3 separate regions of the Homo sapiens genome follow, and regions 1 and 3 are each linked to region 2. The links come from fine-mapping of genetic effects on plasma protein levels. A gene starts in region 2. Each other region holds a variant in brackets. All regions are shown on one strand. Distances are from middle to middle.

Region 1 (2,716 bases), 31 kb before region 2:
CTGTGAGTTCAGGTCACCCTTGAAGGTGACTAATTAGGTCACTGGCTGTGTGGAGGCCTCTGTTCATCACTGGTGGTCAGCTCACCCCTGCTGCCTCCAGAAAGTACCTCAAGGACCTGTGGGTTAACAGCTTGGAATAAAAGCATTTATTTAACATCATCTCCATTTCATTGTAAAGAATCTTGTTTTAGGCTGGGCTTGGTAGCTAACACCTGCAATCCTAGCATTTTGGGAGGCTGAGGCAGGTGGATTGCTTGAGGCTAGGAGTTTGAGACCAGTCTGGCCAATATGTGGAAACCCTGACTCCACAAAAAAATACAAAAAATTAGCTGGGTGTGGTGGTGCATGCCTGTAGTCCCAGCTACTTGGGAGGCTGAGGTGGGAGGATTGCTGGAGTCCGGGAGGTTGAAGCTGCAGTGAACCGAGATGGTGCCACTGCACTCCAGCCTGGGTGACAGAGTGAAACCCTGTCTCAAAAAAAAGAAAAAAATCTTGTTTTAAAAAGTCCGTCCATTTTCCCACTGACTCTTTCTGAGCACTTAACATATGCTGAGTGCTCACCATGCACTGGGCTCTGTGCTATACATGTGTTTCCCTTCAGAAAACACTGCTACAGAGGAATGAAAAAGTCCCTTAAATTAAAAAAGAAAATGGCTGCCATTCTGGCATCACAAGAATTGTTATGAATTGCCTATGTGTTTAAGTGGTTGGGGATGGGAAGAGTGTACATAGCATTACTAAATTTTGAAAAATGTGGTGTGGATACATTTCAAGGAATGTTCTTTGCTCAGGGTGAATTTATGTTCTTTATTCATCCATTTAAGAGAAATGTTTTGAGTGCCTACATTGCATGACACTCCTGTGGTCTAATACTGTTGAACAGTGATAATGATAATTGTAGCCTCTAATATATCTGGCATTGCACCAGATGCTTTACGTGTTTTCTCTTTTAATCCTCACAACGATTCATTGTTTAGGTGAAAAACCAGGCTCAGAGAAATAATTAACTTGCTTTAAGGTAATACAAGTAATAGGTGACAATTTCAGATTCGCAGTTTATTGTACTCAAATCTTGGTCTTTCTCTTAAACCACACAGTCTGCCTAACTAGGTAATCTTAAGCCCAGAAGAACACGTGGCTGCCATGCCCTTTGCACAGTCCTGATAAAGGGCAAAAACGAAGAGTTTTTCCATATTTAATTATGCAAATCATTCCAAAGCTTGGTGGGGTCCTTTACAAACTCAGAATTATCTATCTCCCTTTTCAATCTGCAAGCCCTCTTTTCAACAATTTATCCTAAACACTATGACTAACAAGGCCTCCATCCAGCTTCTAAACTGAAAAGTGGGGCTGATTGCTCTTAGTCCTAGGAAGCAGGGCTCACTCTGCTCAAACAGC[C/T]TAAGGCAGGCTTTCTAATTCTGAGTCTGTTGCTCCGGGTCGTTTGTTTAGAACAATTGGGTATAGAGTCCCTCAACACAAATCTGGGTGATCAACTTGAGGGTCTGGGTGATACCAGGGCCTGGGTGATATTTTGATTCCTGCAATTGTCAAAAGAGGTCATAGATTGTTTTAGAAGGAAATTAGAAAATTGGTGGCCTGTGGGTTTACCAAATGTCTGTAATTACTGCAGCCAGGTCTTATTTATCTGTGTAGCAACAAACACAGATAAACAAGATCTTATGATCAGGCATTCAAACTACTCTTTTAGAAGGCTATTAATTGATGCTGAGCAAAACTTAGACTTGGTCTTATGAAGACCAAATGATTCCACCAGGTTCAGTCTCTGATTTCACACCAGGACAGTGGGGGCAAATTTGCTCCCCAAGGGAATACTTGGCAATGTCTGCAACTTCTTTTGGTTAGGGTGGGGTGCTAATGGCATCTAGTGGGTAGACTAAACATCTAGAATGCAAAGGACAGACCCTGAAACAAAGAAATATCTGGCCCTAGATGTCAATAGCGCATAGATGGAACAACAGCATTCTAAGAGGAAACCACTATGATTTGCATGTGGAGGGAAAGCTCTTGCACAAGGAGTCCTGCCCTGACAATAGTTCTCCAAGCTGGGGACCTCAGCATCTTTCAGCAGAGGAGAAGAAACCCAAGTTGTGGATCATTAAGCTACTTATTTTTGATGACAGTAGCAAAGTTGCATGAGTATATTTATTTTATTTTATTTTGGGGGGAGGATACTCATTTTAAATTAATGCAATGACATAATATTTCAGTTTTTCATGATTCTGGGTAATCCACATAACCGAAAAATTTACTAAAAAGTGAATTTACTGAAAACTGAATTGAGCATTTTAACTACTCAGATATATTTATTTCATACTAATCTTGGATGGCACTCTTCCTTTACTGTATTAATTCCTGCTTTCTTAAACAGGGAACATAGAACTAATTTTCTTGTTGAGCTGAAGTCATCATTTGGAGCATTGAGCACCCCTGTTATTTCGTTTTGCACTTTGGGGAGCATGGCCCTGCTAAATGACAACCCATGTTCTTTGAGTTCTTGAGCCTTTCATTTTCTTTATTTTTCTTAAGCATATTTGTTATCATGTCATCCAGCTATTTATTCTCATTGGTGGAATGAGTTTCATTCTAAGTAGTATATACTCGTTTCCCTTTCTAATTTGCTGCTTCTAGAAAATTGGTAACTAAGCTAGTTTAAAGTGTATCTAAAGTAAAAATAAGTAATGTGTGCAAACTGAGT
Region 2 (2,766 bases):
CCTGACCAAGCACCTGGGCTGAGACCCAGCTGAGACAATCACACCCCACAAAAAAGTACAAGCTCGAAAAAATTCCATGCCACTGCTTAAGGCAGAATGCAGTCAGGGGAAGACAGCACCTCTCTCCAAAACCCTTTAGTAAACTATTTTCCAGCAATAAAACCCACTTTAAATTCAGGCAGAGAGAAGGACCTCAGTACTCATAATTGAGAGAGCACATTTAATCAAGGCAGTAGACAGCTATTTAATTCCACTTTCTTTTGCCTAAATGTCCTTGTCCCCTCTTTTCCATTCACTTGCTCTAAATCAATAGTTCTCAAACCCTCCGTGCTGAGAGATCAATTGTTTATTTTTCTTGTTCCCAAACTACTGTGGGCCAGTACTTTTGTAAAATGGTAAAAATAAATTTCTAAAAAAGAAAAATGCCATTCCGATGGCACAGAAAGTTTTAATTTCTATAAAGTTTATTACTTTCAGTTTCTGTACATATCTTTTGGTAGTCTGGTAAGCAAGCTTCTCGCCGACCTACACCAGCCCCTGGCCCAAACTGAGAGTAGGTAGAACAGCTTCTGGAAGGAACAGAGCCACAGAGGAGTCTGTCTCCCACAGACACTCCCCATCCCAGGTTTTTGTCCTGTCATGTAGTCCGCTCAGCAGCAGCCCTGCTCCACCCAGAGCATGCAGTGGTGAGGTTTGGGGTGGGATTTGCCCAGGCTTTGGTTACTGATATTCCTTGAGAGTCTAGCAGCCCCCAGGAGGAGGGATATGCAGAGATGTTCCCAGCCCCAGTGCAGTGCAGGGACTGGCCCTTACCATTCCATGCCAGCCCTGTTGATCTCCTCCCACCAGCACTCCGTGGGTTCCCCGAGGCTCTGTGGCGTGGGCATGCAGGCGTAGTTCCATTGTCTGTCAGAACCTTCCTTCTTGCTGAAGATGCTCCTCACGGCCACTATCACCTGCCCCTGGGGACACTGGTAGCTGAAGCCTTGCCGGTTCAAATTCACCCACCCATCATCGCTGTAGTCATGATACTGCTGGTATGGGTATCCATAATCGCCATACTGGCCCCAGGCCATGGTGACTAGGGGCAGAAGTACCCAGAGAAGACTGAGGTCCATGCTGCCTGGGATTTTGGCAAACAATGTCACTCTAAGATTGCTGGTCTGACCGTTTTATATAGCTGCCGCTGACATGTGGCTTCCAGATGTGGGTGAGAAGGATCCAACTGCAGTGTGTCATTGCTTAAGCAAAACTTTTCCATGCTGAGATGTCAGCCATAAGGACATTCAGCTTGTTTTAAGGTGGAATTCTAGGAATATACCAGCAGCATGTAAGTCTAAGAAGCTCCCTGGAGAAAGAACAACTTTGTATCTAGATTATAAAAGCCAACTGCTGCTCTACCCTGTAGAAATATTCACTTGAAAAACACTGATTAGTAGCATATTTGTCCCTCACCTTTCAGCACCTCACCCCTTTCTGTCCTACCCTACCCGCTACTAGCAAACCCCTGTATTTGTTCTCCAAACTAGCCTTCCGGGCCACACAAATACCCAGACAGTGATTTCAAAATACCGAAATCATAGACTGAAGTAACAGAGCCATCTAGGATTTCTGTAAGGCTGAATGCCTGTTTTTTTTTTTAAGTTGTCAATCCAACACTTTTTAACCCTTGAGTATAAGCGCGGGTATACCAGTTTGCAGGGCTACTCTGAGAACTCATAAGTTGCATAAGGAAGTACTATGGGCCCATGGGGAGATAAGTTGGATATGATTTCTACACTTAAGCATTCTACCATGCTGCTGAAATTGGACCCAGTCAAGTCTAGAAAGTGTGCTCTGCTCTCAAAATGTAATGGGTTTAATCTAAATAAACCCCCTATTTATCCTTCAGTATTTTTGCCCTCACATTGAATTTTCTTTTCATTGAGTTATAATTTACATATAATTAATTCACCTTTTAAAATACATAATGTACAGTAACATAGCCAGCACCCTAATCAAGACTTAGAACAGTTCCATCAATCCAAAACATCCCCTTATATCCCTTTGCAGTCAAATCTTCCCAAACACCCAGCCATTGGTAACCACTGATTTACTTTCTGTCTCTATGGTTTTGCCTTTTCCAGAATGTCAAGTAAATGGAATCATACCACACGTAGCCTTTCATGTCCATCTTTCACTTAGCATAATGCTTTTAAGGTTCATCCATTTTAAAATTCAACATCTCATTGTATGTGTTAGTATTTTGTTTCTTGTTATTGTTGAGTAATATTCCATAGCATGGATGTACCACAGATTGTTTATACATTTACTAGTTGAAAGACATTTGGGTTGTTTCCAGTTTTTGAAAATTCATTACTTTTTATGTAATGAATTTTATATTCATTATATTTTATATAATGAATTACATAAATGTAATTATAAAGTTGATATAAACATCTATGTATAGGTTTTTGTGTGAACAAATTTTTATTTCATTTGGGTCAATACCTAGGAGTGAGATTGCTGGTTCACAAGGTAATGTATGTTTAACTTTAAAAGAAACTACTGAGGCCGGGTGTGGTGGCTCATGCTTGTAATCCCAGCACTTTAGGAGGCCGAGGCGGGCGGATCACGAGGTCAGGAGATCGAGACCATCCTGGCTAACATGGTGAAACCCCGCCTCTACTAAAAATACAAAAAATTAGCCAGGCTTAGTGGCGGGCGCCTGTAGTCCCAGCTACTCGGGAGGCTGAGACAGGAGAATGGCGTGAACCCGAGAAGCGG
Region 3 (2,766 bases), 15 kb before region 2:
TCCTTTGCCAGGCCTGTTCACCCACTGTAGAGGAGTAAAAGCTGCTTTATGGAAGCGATTTTGAAGAACTAGAGGAGGTTTCTGCTCCATCATACAGTGACAGGTGACTTTGAGCTCTGAATTTACTATCGGTCCTTACTTTAAAAAGAAAAACGTTAAGCTTTTGGGGCTTTGTATCCCTAGAGATACTGTGTGCCACTGGGCATCTGTGGAGTAAGCTGTCTGATTGCAGAGAATAAGCATGACCTGTGAAGCTGTCCTTGCAAGCATCAAACTGTAGAGAGATCAATCACTTGAGGGAGCCAACCTTCACATGTTGACACTTCTGGATCCCCTTGCCCAAGGCAGAAATGCCTGGCTCATTTTCAGATTAAAAAAACCTGGGCCGGTTGTGTTATCAACACCCAGTGTAAGTCATCAGGGCAAATGACAATATACACATTCTCCTAGTCAATTGGAAGGCTAGGTCAGGAGATATTCGGCATGAGCCCAGGGATAGGGAAAGAAACAAAACATCAGAGGCTGGAATTCCAAATGGATCCAGAAAACAGCACAATCTTTTTTTTTAATTTTTTAATTTTTTAATATTTTATTTTTTCTGTCTATAACTATGTACTAGACTCTGACCCATGAGAGGATTGGTTTCTCCCAGAGAAAGACTACAGGAAACTAGGTTCCCAAATAGGCCCTGCAGCCTTGGATATGATGAGAAGTTACCAGAAGTTGGGGAGAAGGAGAACAGCACTGGGATGGGAGTCATTAGGCCTAAGCTTAAGACTTGGCATTCCCACAGAGTAGGTGGGTGACTTTGGGCCAGTCAGTGCCGGCTCTATGGTTCTGTTTCCTTTTCTGCCAAAAGAAGGATGTGGGGGGTTGGATAACCTGAAAGATCCCTCTTGGCGGGAACATCCTCCTAAGTCATTCATTCATTCTTGTCTATATGCCAGCGCTGCCTTCCAGGCTTGTGTGTGACCCTCAAGCTTACCTGAAGCTAGAGCACTTCCTAGGTGCCTCTCCCACCCCAGGAGTCATGAGGGTTTGGTCGGCTGCCAGACTCACCAGCAGGAATAT[G/A]GGCACCTCTTGCTGTAGCGACAACAGTAAAACTGCCACTCCCGATCCAGCACTGACTCGAAGTAGCGGCTCTGGAATCCTGCCACCAGCCCATTGTTGGAGCACGTCTGGTACCTGAAGAGAAGACAACCCCAGGAACCTAAGAACAGTGACACATACACAGACCCCTTCCCAAGACCCCACTGCCACAGTTACACACTCTTTCTCTGACCTAGATTCTTAACAATTTATTCCATTTTATGCAAATAATAGTCTTTATTATATTTGTAGAAATAACATAGCCCCTCCATTAAAATTTAAGTGACTCAGAATTTTCTAACTGAACAAAATTTAGGGAACACTGCCCCTGTCATACCTCTTTCAATATATATTGTTAGATGGAAGCCTGCATAAATGGGTGGATCTAGAATTTTACATCTAGAATTTTACAAATTCGAGATTGTATTATTCATGCCATTTAAAATAAAAGGTATTATAATTCATTTTACTGGAATTTAAAATAAAAAGAAGACAAAGAGAAGCACAACGTATTGATGAATTTCAAATAAACATTTCTTCTGCCTAAGAGAAGAGCCCTGGAAATTGAGCACAAGGATGATCATTCGTTCTGCCCCTGCACAGCATGCAAAGCCCAGATGGGCATGGTGAATGTGCCCAGGGCAGCCCAGTAGGAAAGCTGGGACCACAACCCAGATTCTTCCTACTTATCCAGGAATCTTTCTACCACCCACAAGACCATAAGCTCTACACAGCCATGGCATGTTTTTCTCAGAATTCTATTCCTGGTGGCCACCAAGAATCCTGGCTGTGGAGGCAGTCCTTACAGAGTTGCAACAGGCCAACTGAATGCCTCAAACCCCCTCTAAAGATCCCTTTCCTGTCCTAGCTGCTTAGTCCTAATTCTTCAAATATATAACCGCTCCACTCCAGTCCACAGACAAGAAATAATTTTTGCTCTTTCATTCTACCTGTGCTGCTGCTGGTCTTCACAGCACCTTTTGAACTAAACATTGACTTAGAATAGTACAATCATTTCTTCCTTTGTTCCATCTCTAGTATGATTTTCTCCCATTCCTGGGCCCAATTCCTATGGCGTCTTCAGGCTTCCCACTTTTTGCTGTGATGATAACACTATTTTCTACCTGACCACAGTGGATTTCCACTGTTCTTGCTACTTATCCAGGAATCTTTCCACCACCCACAAGACCATAAGCTCTACACAGTCAGGGCATTTCCACTGTTCTTGCTACTTATCCAGGATCTAGAATTTTACATCTAGAATTTTACAAATTCAAGATTGTATTATGCATGTCATTTAAAATAAAAGATATTATAATTCATTTTACTGGAATTTAAAATAAAAAGAAGACAAAGAGAAGCACAATGTATTGACGAATTTCAAATAAACATTTCTTCTGCTTAACAGCAGAGCCCTGGAAATTGAGCACAAGGATGATCATTTGTTCTGCCCCCACACAGCATGCAAAGCCCAGATGGGTATGGTGAGCCATGGCCCTTTGATGAAATCCAGTGGATTTCCACCTTATAGCATGAGCTCTTTCACAAACCCTTCCAAAATAGTTCTTCAGTTACCTCTCCTTCTTTGCATTTCCCACCATCCCAGCCATTGGTCTATCCCCTCTTATGAGTGGGCAGAGCCAGAGCAGGCAGTTGTCTATGTGCATGGCCAGACAG

Alleles and levels. Positions count from the first base shown, and alleles are read on the strand shown. Strength reflects both the effect of a copy and how common the allele is.
As copies of C replace T in region 1, the plasma level of the protein whose gene starts at base 1,150 in region 2 goes up (moderate association).
As copies of A replace G in region 3, the plasma level of the protein whose gene starts at base 1,150 in region 2 goes down (moderate association).

Evidence for each region. PIP is the posterior inclusion probability: the model's chance that the variant is causal. The UK Biobank Pharma Proteomics Project read protein levels with antibody pairs (Olink). The fine-mapping took linkage between variants from a reference panel, not from the people measured, so its PIPs are less certain.
Region 1: its variant is fine-mapped to the plasma level of the DPT protein (UK Biobank, PIP 0.98).
Region 3: its variant is fine-mapped to the plasma level of the DPT protein (UK Biobank, PIP above 0.99). The variant lies in the coding sequence of DPT. If it changes the protein, the assay may bind it differently, which can mimic a change of level.

What each region holds. Positions count from the first base shown.
Region 1 is chr1:168,696,790-168,699,505 of GRCh38, forward strand. All of the region lies in intron 3 of DPT (dermatopontin), which reads right to left. Among named protein-coding and RNA genes, the nearest start is that of DPT, 31 kb to the right of the region's middle. The variant C/T (reference allele first, on the strand shown) is at 1,399.
Region 2 is chr1:168,728,057-168,730,822 of GRCh38, forward strand. It overlaps DPT (dermatopontin), which reads right to left and starts at 1,150. Exons shown (of 4, transcript NM_001937.5): 1 at 814-1,150. The coding sequence starts at 1,118.
Region 3 is chr1:168,713,162-168,715,927 of GRCh38, forward strand. DPT (dermatopontin) reads right to left here. Exons shown (of 4, transcript NM_001937.5): 2 at 1,060-1,185. Among named protein-coding and RNA genes, the nearest start is that of DPT, 15 kb to the right of the region's middle. The variant G/A (reference allele first, on the strand shown) is at 1,072.